Homo sapiens: one gene and its partners. The protein of the gene in region 4 purifies or fractionates together with the protein of the main gene of each other region. This does not show direct contact. Each region holds a gene or a part of one and is shown on either strand. Other genes may lie near its edges.

Region 1 (3,500 bases), on a different chromosome or scaffold from region 4:
CGGCAAAGGGTTGCCTGGCTGTAGGGTAGAGCAGGTCAACAAGGGAATGGGTGGGGACTGATACTTCAGCCACCTGTGGACCAGGCACCGTGCTTGGCACTTTCTACATCATCTCTTTTAGTCTTCCAGAAATGCTAAGTAACCTGCCTAGGCTCTGCTAAGTGTGTTGTAAATGGAAAAAGCAAATTGGCAAACAGTACGTGTAAGATGGTCCCATTTTTCAGGAGGCTGAGGCAGGAGAATGGCGTGAACCAGGGAGGTGGAGCTTGCAGTGAGCCAAGATCGTGCCACTGAACTCCAGCCTGGGCGACAGAGCGAGACTCTGTCTCAAAAAAAAAAAAAAGATGGTCCTATTTTTTAAAAACAGTGGGCATATGTATGTAATTTCTAATAGACAAATAACTCCCACAAAGTATGTATTTTTATTGTCATGTTACATGTGAAGAAACAGGCTCAGAGATGACCTGCCTGGGTGTGTCCCCAGCTGCCCACCCTAAAGCTTGTGCTTTTCCAGGATCCCCCCTGCCTCTCCCCGAGAGCATCTGCCAGAATTCATTTATGGATGAGGAAGCTGAGGCCAGGAGAAGCTCAGCCATCCCAAGGCACACAGCACATTGAGTCATGACCATTTAGGGCTGCAGGAGACATCAGCTCAATAGAAGATTTGGGTGTGGGAGCCCCCAGGGCCAGGGAGGTATGAGCCTTATTCATGTGAGCATCCTCCAGACGATGGTGGCTGCCTGGGGAGTGCTGTACCCGGAGGACTGTGGAGCTTGGTCCAGGGACAGCAGGGAAAGTGCCATGACCAGTTGGTGCCATGAGCCCTGGGTTGCACTGAGGGGCTGACCCATTCCCAGAGTTCGTGCTTCCCTGGCCTTGGGGAAGGTGGGAAGGGAGGGAGGGAGGGAATTCCCCTGCATGGGGCACTGCATCAGGGCAGTTAAATGTTTAACTCTGTTAAACACTTGCACCAGGCTAGGCGGGGTCGCTGAGTTCTCTAGACTGTCGGGGACTCACTGTTTGGCCCTGGGCACACACCACTTAACCTCTTTGAGCTCCTGCTCTCTCTGCTAGAGGATACCCGCTGTGCCTAACCTCACCAGCTTTCAAGAGTCTCAAAGGCAGTAATAGACATGAAAGAGCTTTGAAAAGGCCAGGAGTGCTGAACAGAAGCCGGGTGTCGCTGTTACACCCCGATGGTGCTGGGCGCTTGTCTGCAGGCTGATCACAATGCCCTCTGTCATTTCAGCTGAATAGCATTGGCAATTACTACAAGCCGTGGTTCTTTAAGCATGTGGAGAACTATCTGAAGACAAACCGAGAGGGCCTGGAGTACATTCCCTTGAGACACTACTACCACCGCCACACGCGCAGCATCTTCTGGGAGCTCCAGGTGAGGCTTAGGTTTCTGTAGCCCTGGCTCCTCCAGGCCAGCTGGGCAGGGAGCCCGGACAGTTAACACTGTAGCCATACTCTCTCCCTTCAGGGTAAAGAGTGGCTTTGTCCTAAGGAACTGCAATGCCTTCTTAAGCAGCAACACAGTCGTTTCCTTCTGAAGGAACCAACTACCTTCAGTTCAAGCAGCAGGCTCTTAGCAAGCATCTGCTTGGTGCTGGGGAGTAAGCCCCTGGGCCGGTACTTTGGGGAACACAGACCTGTTCCGCCCTTGAGGAAGGGTTAGCCTCTAGCCACGGTGAGCAGACAGATCCCTGCACTGTAAAGGGCCGCAGGAACATTAGTAGGAAGTGGCTAGTTCTGCCTAGGGCTCGAGGTAACAGCCAAGCCTGGCTGTGAAAGGTGAGTGAGAATTTGCTGTTGCATGTGTAGATGGGTGGGTGGATGAGGAGCAGTGACACTTTAAGTGGGGGAAGGTCAGGAAGAACCCCTCAGGAGATGACTTTGTGAGCAGGGACCTGAACATAGGGAAGGCAGACCAGGAACAACTCTGGGGAGGACTCTGGAACTCTGTTCACAGGCAGAGGGACAGCCAGAGCCCAGGGCTTGAGCTGGGCTAACAGGAAATTAAACATTATAAAATGGACAGTTCAGGGTAGTTTAGTACATTCACAGTGTTGTGCAACCACTACCTCTGTGTAGTTCCAAACATTTTCATCTCTGAAAAGGAAACCCTATACCCATTAAGCAGCCACTCCCTATTCTCTCCCCTTTCCCCAGCCTGTGGCAACCACCAATTCATCTTCTGTCTCTGCAGATTTACTTATTCTGGATATTTCACATATATGGAATCATTCAGTATGTGCCTTTTGTGACTGGCTTCTTTTACATAGCATAATGTTTTCATGTATCAATATTTCATTTCTTTTTATGGCGGGATAGTAGTTCATTATATGAGAGACCACATTTTGTTTTGTCACTCATCTGTTGATGGACATGTGGGTTGTTTCAACCTTTTGGCTACTGTGAACAGTGCTGCTACAAACCTTCATGTGCATGTATTTGTTTGAATACTTGTTTTCAGTTCTTTGGGATATAGAACTAGGAGTGGAATTGCTGGGTCATATGCTAATTCTGTGTCTAACTTTCTGAGCAACAACCAAACTCTTTTCCACTGAGGCTGTGCCATTTTTCATTCCCACCAGCAATGTATGAGCGCTCTATTTTTTCAACATTCTCACCAACACTTGTTATTTTCTGGTTTTTAAATTATTAGTATTATTATTATAGCCATTCTGGTGGGTTTATGGTATTGACTTGCATTTTCCTTGAAATTAATGATGCTGAGCATCTTTTTATATGCATGTTAACCGTTTTGTATATCTTCTTTGGTGAAAAGTCTATTTGAATCCTTTGCCACCTTTTAAAATTTGGTCATTTGTCTTTGTTGTTGAGATGTAAGAGTTCTTTGTGTATTCTGGATACTAGACCCTCATCAGATATATGATCTGCAAACATTTTCTCCAATTCTGTAGGTTTCTTTTCATTGTCTTGGTAACGTCCTTTGATGCACAGAAGTTTTTAATTTAGATGAATTCCAATTTATCTATTTTCCCTTTTGTTTGTGCTTTTAGTGCCATATATAAGAATTTATTGTCAAGTCCAAGCCCCTTTGTTTTCTTCAAAGACCTTTATAGTTGCAGCTCTAATCTTTAGGTTGTTGAGTGGGGTAGGAGTCCAGGCTCCATTCTTTTGCTTATAGCTATCCAGGTGTCCCAGCAAGGCTGCATGTGTTTGAAAAACAGCAAGAAGCCTTCGGAGCCAGCATGCCCACGCTGAGCTATGGTGAGGAATGAGGTCAAACAGGCACCAGAGGCTAGATCATATGGCTCCTTGTAGGTTAGGAAGGACTTTATATTTTATTCTAAGTATAATAGGAAGCCAATGAGGGCTTTGAACAGGAAAGTGGCATGGCCTGATTTTTGTTTTAAAAGAATAACTGTGACAGCTGGATAGAGTGGATGGGGACGGGAGTGGACAAGAGTGGAAGAGTAGAAGAAAGAAGATACTGTTGTCTGGGCAGCAGCAGAGGAGAAGTGTCAAAT
Region 2 (3,500 bases), on a different chromosome or scaffold from region 4:
TTATGTCTGACTAGAACATAAAAGTATTAATAATTCACAGGTGTTGTCATCTGCGTTTAGCTGGCTATAGCTATAAGATAGATCGTGGTTAACATTATTTGAGCATAGAACAAACCTCATAGTTTCTGTTGAGATTTTATTAGTCTCATTTTAAAAGACAGTATTGCTAGGAGTATAAGAGCAGTTATGTGCCTATTTTTTTTCCCATCACTCCTGTCACTGTGTCAAAGCTTAGGACATTCTAATTTTGCTTTTCTTCCCTTGTTGTATCTTAAGGTGTGACTGCTGCTTCTTGGTCTAAGTGTTTTGATAGAAAATAATGGGCTAGAGCTTTATGGTACTTTTTTAGAGCATATTGTCCTTAAAAACTAGTTTCATTTGAGGCATGACTATTCATTTCAGCTTTAAAGCACTTTATGAATCCTTAACTATATTACCATTTGCCATGCTGGAACTTCTGAGTACAGCGAATTCTCACTAATTGACCAATTTTTGAAGAAGCTGTAATATTTATTTTTTTATGAAAAGTGGTTTTACTTTTTCAGTACACACACAATTAGGTCCATTCTCCAAGAAAGGATTTTAGATTATCTACCTTAGTGAATGTATAGAAATGATTTAGCAAAATACAAATAAAGTTTCTTGATGTTTGGGATGTTAAAAGGTTTCTTTTCTTTCTATGGTCTAAATTATATAGTGTCACTTTTTAAGCAAGCCTTTTCTTGATAAATAAAATAAAAGCTACTTTAATATTTACTTTTATTCCATCTGAATTATTCCAAAACAGTAGTAAAATTTAAGATATTTCATAGAATTGACATTGCACAATTCAGTGATAAAGTGACACTGCTTGTTAAAAATTAGAAGTGAATATAATAAAGAAGTTATTTCTGTGACCAAGGAGTAATAAATGAACTCTCTGCTCTGCCAACAGACCAAGTCTGTGTTTGAGATTGGACTCTGCAGTAATAGAATGTTTTGCTATGCAGTTCTTGGATCCATCATGGGACAATTACTAGTTATTTACTTTCCTCCGCTTCAGAAGGTTTTTCAGACTGAGAGCCTAAGCATACTGGGTAAAGAAAACGTTATCTTTATCATTTATGTATTTTAGATAAATCATATTTTCTAATGTGTTTGTTTTAATTTTAAAATTCTTTTAAAATAGCAAAATAAGTAACTCACTTGATTTGAAAAAGGAGTCTATTTTTTCACTTGGGGAAGCTCAGGGGAATTACTCTCCTAACTCCAGGGTTTTGGTTTTTGCTCTTTTATAGGTTATCAATTGTTATAAAAATCATAATACGTGATTCTCAAATATAGCAAATCAAAACCTGCTCTAGAGTATAGTTTATAACTTTTTATGTACTATGCCATCTTGTATGAAGAGAAAACTAGACTTAATCTCCCTGAAAACCAAGTTGCTCTCTTCTTTAAAGTTAGAATTTTCAGTAAACTAATAATTTCATTATTCTTTCTTGTTTGTACATTCTAATTTCACAAAATGTCAGTCTGACCAAATAGCAGAATGTTTTATAAAGACTATTTGGAAATTACACATTTTTCTTACATTACCATTTATTAAATGTATAATACAGTGCATTTAAAAATTAGTTTTCCTGTGTAGGTGTGAGGAATGATATATTTGACAGTAATGCTATCCTTTATTGAGTTCTCAATTTGGGTATTTATGAAAAGGAGTTATACAGTTTCACTGTATTTTTTCTTGTAAGTTAAAATTTACCTTAAAATTGAACTAGTTGAATTTCAGTATTTTAATTCCATATTCACATTTCTTCCTCTTTTTAAAAAAATGGCATTTTAAGGAAACATCTGCAATTTTCCAAGCAGTAAATAAGAATTGAGATAGTGTGGATAGTATTGTAAAGACAAGTCTTCTATGCTTTGAAATAGAACATATTAATGTCAAATTTTTAATCTTCAGATAGGCATTGTCATTCAAATTGTCTACTACTGTTGATACAGTACTTTTTTAAAGGGCTGTGTGATCTATGAAATAAACTCCTTTTGTTGGTGATACTGTTAAAGGCTAGCCACATAAGGTTTCAGGGAAAGTGGTCAGAGGACTTGGGTTCTAATTCTGGCTGCTGCCTTTCCTAGTTATGTGACTTTGGATAAGTCACTTAATATCTTTTTTTCTTTTCTTATTTTTAACTGAGGGTGATTGTGCCTGCCTTATGGAATAGTTGTGAAACAATGTGTTTGAAAGCTGTGGTGGCCAGGCGCCATGCCTCACGCCAGTAATCCCAATACTTCGGGAGGCTGAGGCAGGCAGATCACTTGAGGTCAGGAGTTCAAGACCAGCCTGTCCAAAATGGTGAAACCCCCTCTCTACTAAAAATACGAACATTAGCCAGGTATGATGGCACATGCCTGTAATCCCAGCCACTTGGGAGGCTGAGGCAGGCAAATGGCTTGAACCCAGGAGGCGGAGGTTGCAGTGAGCTGAGATCATGCCACTGCATTCCAGCCTGGGTGACAGAGCAAGACTTCATCTCAGAAAAAAAAAAAAAAAAAAAAAAAGTTGTGTTAAAATGCTAGAAAAATGTAAGCTATTAAGCTTTGCAACTGTAAGTTTCAAAGAAATGTAAAACCCAACTTATTTTCTCTTGCAGATCTGTTGTTTCTTTTGGGTCTCACCTCATCAGTGTGCATAGTGGCAGAAATTATAAAGAAGGTTGAAAGGAGCAGGGAAAAGATCCAGAAGCATGTTAGTTCGACATCATCATCTTTTCTTGAAGTATGATGCATATTGCATTATTTTATTTGCAAACTAGGAATTGCAGTCTGAGGATCATTTAGAAGGGCAAGTTCAAGAGGATATGAAGATTTGAGAACTTTTTAACTATTCATTGACTAAAAATGAACATTAATGTTAAAGACTTAAGACTTTAACCTGCTGGCAGTCCCAAATGAAATTATGCAACTTTGATATCATATTCCTTGATTTAAATTGGCTTTTGTGATTGAGTGAAACTTTATAAAGCATATGGTCAGTTATTTAATTAAAAAGGCAAAACCTGAACCACCTTCTGCACTTAAAGAAGTCTAACAGTACAAATACACTATCTATCTTAGATAGATATATTTTTTTTTATTTTTAAATATTGTACTATTTATGGTGGTGGGGCTTTCTTACTAATACACAAATAAATTTAATCATTTCAAAGGCATTCTATTTGGTTTAGAAGTTGATTCCCAGGAGTGCCATATTTCAGCTACTGTATTTCCTTTTTCTTGTAATGTAAGCAGCTCAGATACCATGTGCTATCATTTTTGTATCAAGTTTTTTGCACAGGATGTGACCACTGTCAGATCACTGTTCTTTTCTTTCTTTTTGTGATTGAAAAGCCTATACTACAATTTGAAGTAAATTTTTGTTTTTCTTAGTAAGTGTAAATGGTTGCTTTATTTTTATTTTAAAAAGGTATGTCTTTGGTTTGGCAGAATTCATGCAGGGCTATCAAGTGGTGTTCTAG
Region 3 (3,500 bases), on a different chromosome or scaffold from region 4:
CCTTGCCAAAGGTCAGCGCTCAGGGATGGAGCTGAGCCTGTTCTGTGCTCTGCTCAATGTGTCCCTGGGCAGAGCCAGGCCTGTGGGCCTTTTCTCTGAACCCGGGGTGCTCAGAGAAGACTTCCATTTGCCTGTGTAACGCCCCTGCCCCAGCCCAGGGCTCCCCTGGACTTCCTTGCTTCCAGGCTGAGAGAGAGACCAGCTTTGAAGGAGGATGTTTTTTCCCCTGCAGGGAAGTTCTGGCACATCGCTGACCTGCACCTTGACCCTGACTACAAGGTATCCAAAGACCCCTTCCAGGTGTGCCCATCAGCTGGATCCCAGCCAGTGCCCGACGCAGGCCCCTGGGGTGACTACCTCTGTGATTCTCCCTGGGCCCTCATCAACTCCTCCATCTATGCCATGAAGGAGATTGAGCCAGAGCCAGACTTCATTCTCTGGACTGGGTGAGTACAGTTGAGGTGGCAGCTACCCTTTGCCAGGCATCTGCTATGTGCTACATACCAGTCTGGCCCTTTGCCCACATTATCTCCCTTAATCCTCACATCAGTCTCACGTGAGGCTGAGGAACCTAAAGCTCAAAGGAATTTTGTAACTTGCCCGGGGATTCCTGAGTCCAACTGATTCCACAGTCTGTGTCCTCGACCTCCATGTCTCCTGGCTGTGGCAGAACGCAGCTCTCAATCAGGCTTTTGGACGTGGTCCTGGCATGCCTGGGCACCCGGAGAGTGTCCAGGTTTTAAGCTATGGGTGGACACTGGAGCCATTTCCCCTGGGGCTTAGGGACTCTAAGTCTGAGAGGTCCAAGTGCAGGGAGGGAAGAAGTTATGAGGGCTGAAGGTGGCCCAGCCTGGGGTCCTAGTGTCCTGGCCAGCTGCTGGCCACCCCTGGGCTGCCCAGTGGTCCTGGATTTTCTCACCAGTCAGAGCTCTGCTCTACAGAGTGACAGCTTGAGGGCCGATCCCACTCAGCCGCAGAGACCCAGTTTCTGCTTCCTGTCCAAGGTTGCTGCTCTAATTCCTTCAACTTTCCTGGGAACTTGCCTCCTTATCATTCAAGATTCCCCCATTCCGGCTGGGTATAGTGGCTCATGCTTGTAATTCCAGCACTTTGGGAGGCCGAGGCAGTGGATCACCTGAGGTCAGGAGTTTGAGACCATCCTGGCCAACATGGTGAAACCCCGTCTCTACTAAAAATACAAAAATTAGCCTGGCGTGGTAGTGCACGCCTGTGGTTCCAGCTACTCGGGAGGCTGAGGCAGGAGAATCGCTTGCATTTGGGAGGTAGAGGTTGCAGTGAGCCAAGATCACACCACTACACTCCCAGCCTGAGTGACACAGCAAGACTCTGTCTCAAAAAAAAAAAAGAAAGAAAAAGAAAAAAAGATACCCCCATCTCCTCGCTTGCTCCCTCACTTGGCAGGGCAACAAGTCGTGCTCAGTTGTGGGGTAGATGCTAGGGATCTGAGATGATGGACACCCACACTTGGCTCCAAGGAGCTCACGTTCTTGTGGGCAATGCAGACAAACCCATTGACCCTACCCTTACATCCAAGCAAGGAGAGAGAGTCACCTGGGGGGATGTGGGAACTTCACAGGGCACATGATCCCATCTGGCAGGATTAGGGGAAGGACATCCTGCAGGAGGTGGTGGAGCAGGGGAGCTCTCGAGGAAGGCTGGAAGGAATTCTGACTTTGCGCTCCCTCTACCAGCCTCAGTGGACACTTCTATAAGGCAGGGTGAAACCCATGATGCCCCTAGCTGTGATGTGGTTTGTGGGTGTGACCAGGAAGGACCCTCAGATGAACCTGCCAGGCTGGACACATAAGAAGACATGTGACATTGTCTCAGGAGGGGCCTGGACAGCTCTGGCTTCCTTGGGCTCAGGAATCAATCTAAGAAGAGAGTGAGATTTGGTCCATGACCTTGGGCCTGCTCCCTTGAGGGGAGCTTCTGATTTCTCCGAGAAGGGAGAGCATGTGTAGCATTCAGACAGATGGGATCCCTCAGGAAATTCATGATCCTTTAACAGATGCACATTTTTTTTTTTTTTTGAGATGGAGTTTCGCTCTTTTTGCCCAGGCTGGAGTGCAATGGCGTGATCTTGGCTCACCACAATCTCCGCCTCCTGGGTTCAAGCGATTCTCCTGCCTCAGCCTCCCGAGTAGCTGGGATTACAGGCATGCGCCACCACGCCCGGCTAATTTTGTATTTTTATTAGAGACAAGGTTTCTCCATGTTGGTGAGAGTGGTCTCAAACTCCCGACCTCAGGTGATCTGCCCGCCTCAGCCTCCCAAAGTGCTGGGATTGCAGGCGTGAGCCACTGCACCCGGCCACAGTTGCACCTTTTTTTCCTGGGAAATCTCTGAGACCTTGAAGAGGTACACAGCATCAGATGAGAAGATCTCTAGGACCCTTTACAATTCTTCAATTATAATAAAATTTGACTTCTAAGAGAGCTGCAGTCCCTTTGAGGATGGCCATTAGAAATTAGGTATGTTTTACTACTCAGGAGGCTGAGGCAGGAGAATCGCTTGAACCTGGGAGACGGAGGTTGCAGTGAGCCGAAATTGCGCCACTGCACTCCAGCCTGGGTGACAGAGCGAGACTCCATCTCAAAAAAAAAAAAAAAAAGAAATTAGGTGTTTTTTTGTTTTTTTTTTTTAAGATGGAGTCTCGCTCTGTCGCCCAGGCTGGAGTGCAGTGGTGCGATCTCGGCTCACTGGTGCCCCCTACCACGCCTGGCTAATTTTTGTATTTTTAGTAGAGACAGGGTTTCACCATATTGGCCTGGCTGGTCTCGAACTCCTGACCTTATGATCCGCCTGCCTCGGCCTCCCCAAGTGCTGGGATTACAGGCGTGAGTCACCGCCCCCGGCCTAGGTGTGTTTTTTATCAGACAGAATTAGATTCTCTAACCTAGAAATTAAAAATATGAAATTTTGTCCCTGTGTCTTTGGGTTTCCGGCCTGTCCCCAGGGAGTTTTCAGGGCAAAACAGCCCCTCTTGCTGCCCTAATGTGGGTATCAGAGACACTATAGGATGCAGTGGCTGTGAGCATAGACTCTGGGGCCAGGCTGACTGGGCTCAAATCTTGGCCCCACCACTTTCTAGTGGTGTACACTTAGGTACAATTTTTCCCCCGTGTCTCTGGTGCTTGATTTAGGATAGGCAAAATTCTTAACTTTTCTGTGTCTTGGTTTCTTTATCTGTCAAACGGGCCTAAACTAATAATAGAATTTACATTGCAGTGTTATAATGGGGAAAAAATTAGTGGCTGTGGCAACAACACACAGAAAGTGCCTGGCAGAAAGTCAGCCGGTGTGAGCTTCTAGCAGCAGTATTAATACTATTATGCTAATTAGTTTCCCTGGGGGAATACCTGGGCAGCAGAGGCCCCAGGATTTTGACTGTCCGGACGTCTCCCCATCCCTACACTCCACCTGCCACCATTCTCCTCCCCTTGCCAAGCATTTCTAAGGTGGACCCAAGAATTTTG
Region 4 (3,500 bases):
GTTAAGTATATTCACATTGTTGTTCAACAGATCTCTAGAACTTTTTCATCTTGCAAAACTGAAACTCTGTACCCATTGAACAACTGCCCATTCCCGCCCCAACCCAGCTGTCCTTGACAACCACTATTCTACTTTCTGTTTCTAGGAATTTGACCACTTTATACTTTGTGTCAGTGAGTCATATAGTATTTGTATTTTTGTGGTTGGCTTATTTCACTTATAATGTCTATAATGTTTATATTATCTTTACCTTTTCTTTTTTTTTTGAGACGGAGTCCTGCTCTGTCACCTAGGCTAGAGTGTAGTGGTGTGATCTTGGCTCACTGCAACCTCTGCCTCCGAGGTTCAAGTGATTCTCTTGCCTCAGCCTCCCAAGCAGCTGGGACTACAGGCGCGTGCACCATGCCTGGCTAATTTTTCCATTTTTAGTAGAGATGGTTTTTTTTTTTTTTAACCATGTTGGCCCGCTGGTCTCGAACTCCTGACCTCAGGTGATCTGCCCGCCTTGGCCTCTGAAAGTGCTGGGATTACAGGTGTGAGCCACTGCGCCTGGCCTATATTATCTCTAAATGTAAAGATATATTCTTTACGTTTAAAGAGGTATGGTCTTTACATCTGTCAATGGACATTTTGGTTGCTTTTACCTCTTGACTATTGTGAAACATGCTATAATTAACTTGAGTGTACAGATACCTCTTGGAGATCCTGTTTTTAATTATTTTGGATATATGCCCAGAAGTGGGGATTGCTAGATCATATGGTAGTCTATTTTTAATTTTTTGAAGAGCTTTCATACTGTTTTCCATTGTGGCTCATCATTTTACAATCCCACAAACGGTGTACAAGGTTTTCAGTTTCTCCACGCCCTCATCAACACTTGTTATTTTCTGTTTCTTTGATATGGGCTATCCTTATGAGTGTGAGGTGATATGTCATTGTGGTTTTGGTTTGCATTTTTCTAATGATTAAGGAAGTCAAGCATCTTTTCACATGCATGTTGGCCATTTAAAAATCTTTGGAGAAATGTCTGTTCAAGTCCTTTTTCCATTTTTAATTGAGTTTTGTTGTTGTTGGCCTGTAGGAGTTCTTTATGGATTCCAGATATTAATCCCTTGTGAGATATAGAATTTTCAATATATTGTCTCCTATTCTGTAGCTGGCCTTTTTACACTATTGATCATGTCCTTTGATATATATTGTTTTTAGTTTCGTTAAGGCCCATTTGTCTACTTTTGCTTTTGTTTGCCTCTGCTTTTGGTGTTATATTCAAGAAATCATTGCTAAATCCAGTGTCATGAAGCTTTTCCCTATGTTTTCTTCTAGGAGTTTTATATTGGGTCTTACATTTAGGTCTTTAACAGATTTTGAGTTAATTTTTTTTATATGGTATAAGATAGGGGTTCAGCTTCATTATTTTCCATATGGATATCTAGTTTTTCCATTACCATTTGTTGAAGAGACTGTCATTTCCCCATTGCGTGGTCTTGGCATCCCTATTGAAGATCATTTGACCATATAGATGAGGATTTATTTCTGGGCTTTCTGTTGTTCATTAGTCTATATATCTGTATTTATGCCAATACCACACTGTTTTGATTACTATTGCTTTGTAATATATTTTAAATTTAGTACATATAAGACTTCCATCCTTGTTCTTTTTCAAGATTGTTTTGGATGTTTGGGGATTTCTTGAGATTCCATATGAATTTTGGGATGTTTTTTCTATTTTTGCAAAAAATGCCATTGGGATTGCATTGAATCTGTACATTGTTTTGTAGAATAGACATTTGAACAATATTAAGTCTTCTAATTTATGAACACGGGATGTCTTTTTATTGTACTCTTTAATTTCTTTCAGCAGTGTTTTGTTTTTAGCGTATAAGTCTTTTACCTACTTGCTTAAGTTTATTCCTAAGTATTTTATTCTTTTGATGCAATTGTTAATGGGATTGTGTTCTTAATTTCCTTTTCAGATTGTTCATTCTTAGGATATAGAAATATAACTGATTTTTGTGTGTTGTGTATCCTACAACTTTGCTGAATTTATTAGTTCTAACAGCTTTTTTTTTTGGTGTAGAATCTTTAGGGTTTCTACATATAAGATATGTCATCTGTGAATAGAGATAATTTTACTTCTTCCTTTCCAGTTTGGATGCCTTTATTTCTTTTTCTTGCCTCATTGCTCTGGCTAGAACTTCCTGTGCTATGTTGAGTAGAAGTGATGAGTGGACATCTTTGTCTTATTCCTGATCTTAGAAGAAAAACTTCCAGTATTTCAAAATTGGGTATGATGTTAGCTGTGGGCTCATCATAAATGACCTTTATTATGCTGTGATACTTTTCCTTTTGTTGCCCTCCCTCCGTTTTTTTTTTTGCCTATATATCCCCAACCTTTTCACAGAACAGTGCTCACATTCTTTATACCAAACTTGTTTTTACCCTGAGAAGATCTTACCCTGTAGTCTTCTTGAGTGGAAGCTGCCTTGTCCTTTCTTTCTTCTTCTTCTTTTTTTTTTCCCCCATCAGGTCATTTTATTATTATGGTTTTTACAAATTTTGTTTTATTTTAATAGTTTTTGGGGAACAGGTGGTGGTTTGTGGTTACATAGATAAGTTCTTTAGTGGTGATTTCTGAGATATTGGTGCACCCGTTACCCGAGCAGCGTACACTGTACCCAGTGTGTAGTCTTTTATTCCTCACCCCACTCCCACCTTTCCCCCTGAGTCCCCAAAGTCCCTTATATCATTCTCATGCCTTTGTGCCCTCATAGCTTAGCTCTCACTTATAAATGAGAATATATGATATTTGGCTTTCCATTCCTGAGTTACTTCGCTTAGAGTAATGGTCTCCAACTCCATCCAGGTTGCTGCAAGTGCCATTCTTTCTTTTTTTTTTTTTTTTTTTGAGCCGGAGTCTCGCTCTGTCGCCCAGGCTGGAGTGCAGTGGCACGATCTCGGCTCACTGCAAGCTCCGCCTCCCGGCTTCATGCCATTCTGCCTCAGCCTCCCAAGTAGCTGGGACTACAGGTGCCTGCCACCGCACCCAGCTAATTTTTTGTATTTTTAGTAGAGACGGGGTTTCATCGTGTTAGCCAGGATGGTCTCGATCTCCTGACCTCGTGATCCGCCCGCCTCGGCCTCCCAACATGCTGGGATTACAGGCGTGAGCCACCGCGCCCGGCCCATTATTTCAGTTTATTTTATGGCTGAGTAGTATTCCATGGTGTATATATACCACATTTTCTTTAGCCACTTGTTGGTTGATGGGCATTTAGGTTGGTTCCATATTTCTGCAATTGCAAATTTTGCTGCTATAAACATGCATATGCAAGTGTCTTTTTCATATAATGACTTATTTTCCTTTGGGTAGATACCCAGTAGTGGGATTGCTGGATTTAATGGTAGTTCCGCTTTTAGTTATTTAAGGAATCTCCATACTGTTTTCCATAGTGGTTGTATTAATTTACATTCCCACCAGCAGCGTAAGTGTTCCCTTTTCA

Evidence for each region. The genes of interacting proteins can lie anywhere in the genome.
Region 1: the proteins of AGK (region 4) and DHCR24 purify together in Homo sapiens (affinity purification with mass spectrometry, with the first as the bait; one large-scale study listed by BioGRID). This does not show direct contact.
Region 2: the proteins of AGK (region 4) and ATP2C1 purify together in Homo sapiens (affinity purification with mass spectrometry; one large-scale study listed by BioGRID and IntAct). This does not show direct contact.
Region 3: the proteins of AGK (region 4) and SMPDL3B purify together in Homo sapiens (affinity purification with mass spectrometry, with the first as the bait; one large-scale study listed by BioGRID). This does not show direct contact.

The regions. Positions count from the first base shown.
Region 1 is NC_000001.11:54,863,196-54,866,695, reverse strand, and holds part of DHCR24 (delta(24)-sterol reductase precursor), read left to right. Parts: intron 1-1,249; coding exon 1,250-1,393; intron 1,394-3,500. UniProt on the Homo sapiens protein: Catalyzes the reduction of the delta-24 double bond of sterol intermediates during cholesterol biosynthesis.
Region 2 is NC_000003.12:130,998,584-131,002,083, forward strand, and holds part of ATP2C1 (calcium-transporting ATPase type 2C member 1), read left to right. Parts: intron 1-934; coding exon 935-1,076; intron 1,077-2,636; coding exon 2,637-2,767; 3' UTR 2,768-3,500. UniProt on the Homo sapiens protein: ATP-driven pump that supplies the Golgi apparatus with Ca(2+) and Mn(2+) ions, both essential cofactors for processing and trafficking of newly synthesized proteins in the secretory pathway.
Region 3 is NC_000001.11:27,945,000-27,948,499, forward strand, and holds part of SMPDL3B (acid sphingomyelinase-like phosphodiesterase 3b isoform 1 precursor), read left to right. Parts: intron 1-232; coding exon 233-446; intron 447-3,500. UniProt on the Homo sapiens protein: Lipid-modulating phosphodiesterase. Active on the surface of macrophages and dendritic cells and strongly influences macrophage lipid composition and membrane fluidity. Acts as a negative regulator of Toll-like receptor signaling.
Region 4 is NC_000007.14:141,557,910-141,561,409, forward strand, and holds part of AGK (acylglycerol kinase, mitochondrial isoform 1 precursor), read left to right. Parts: intron 1-3,500. UniProt on the Homo sapiens protein: Lipid kinase that can phosphorylate both monoacylglycerol and diacylglycerol to form lysophosphatidic acid (LPA) and phosphatidic acid (PA), respectively. Does not phosphorylate sphingosine. Phosphorylates ceramide.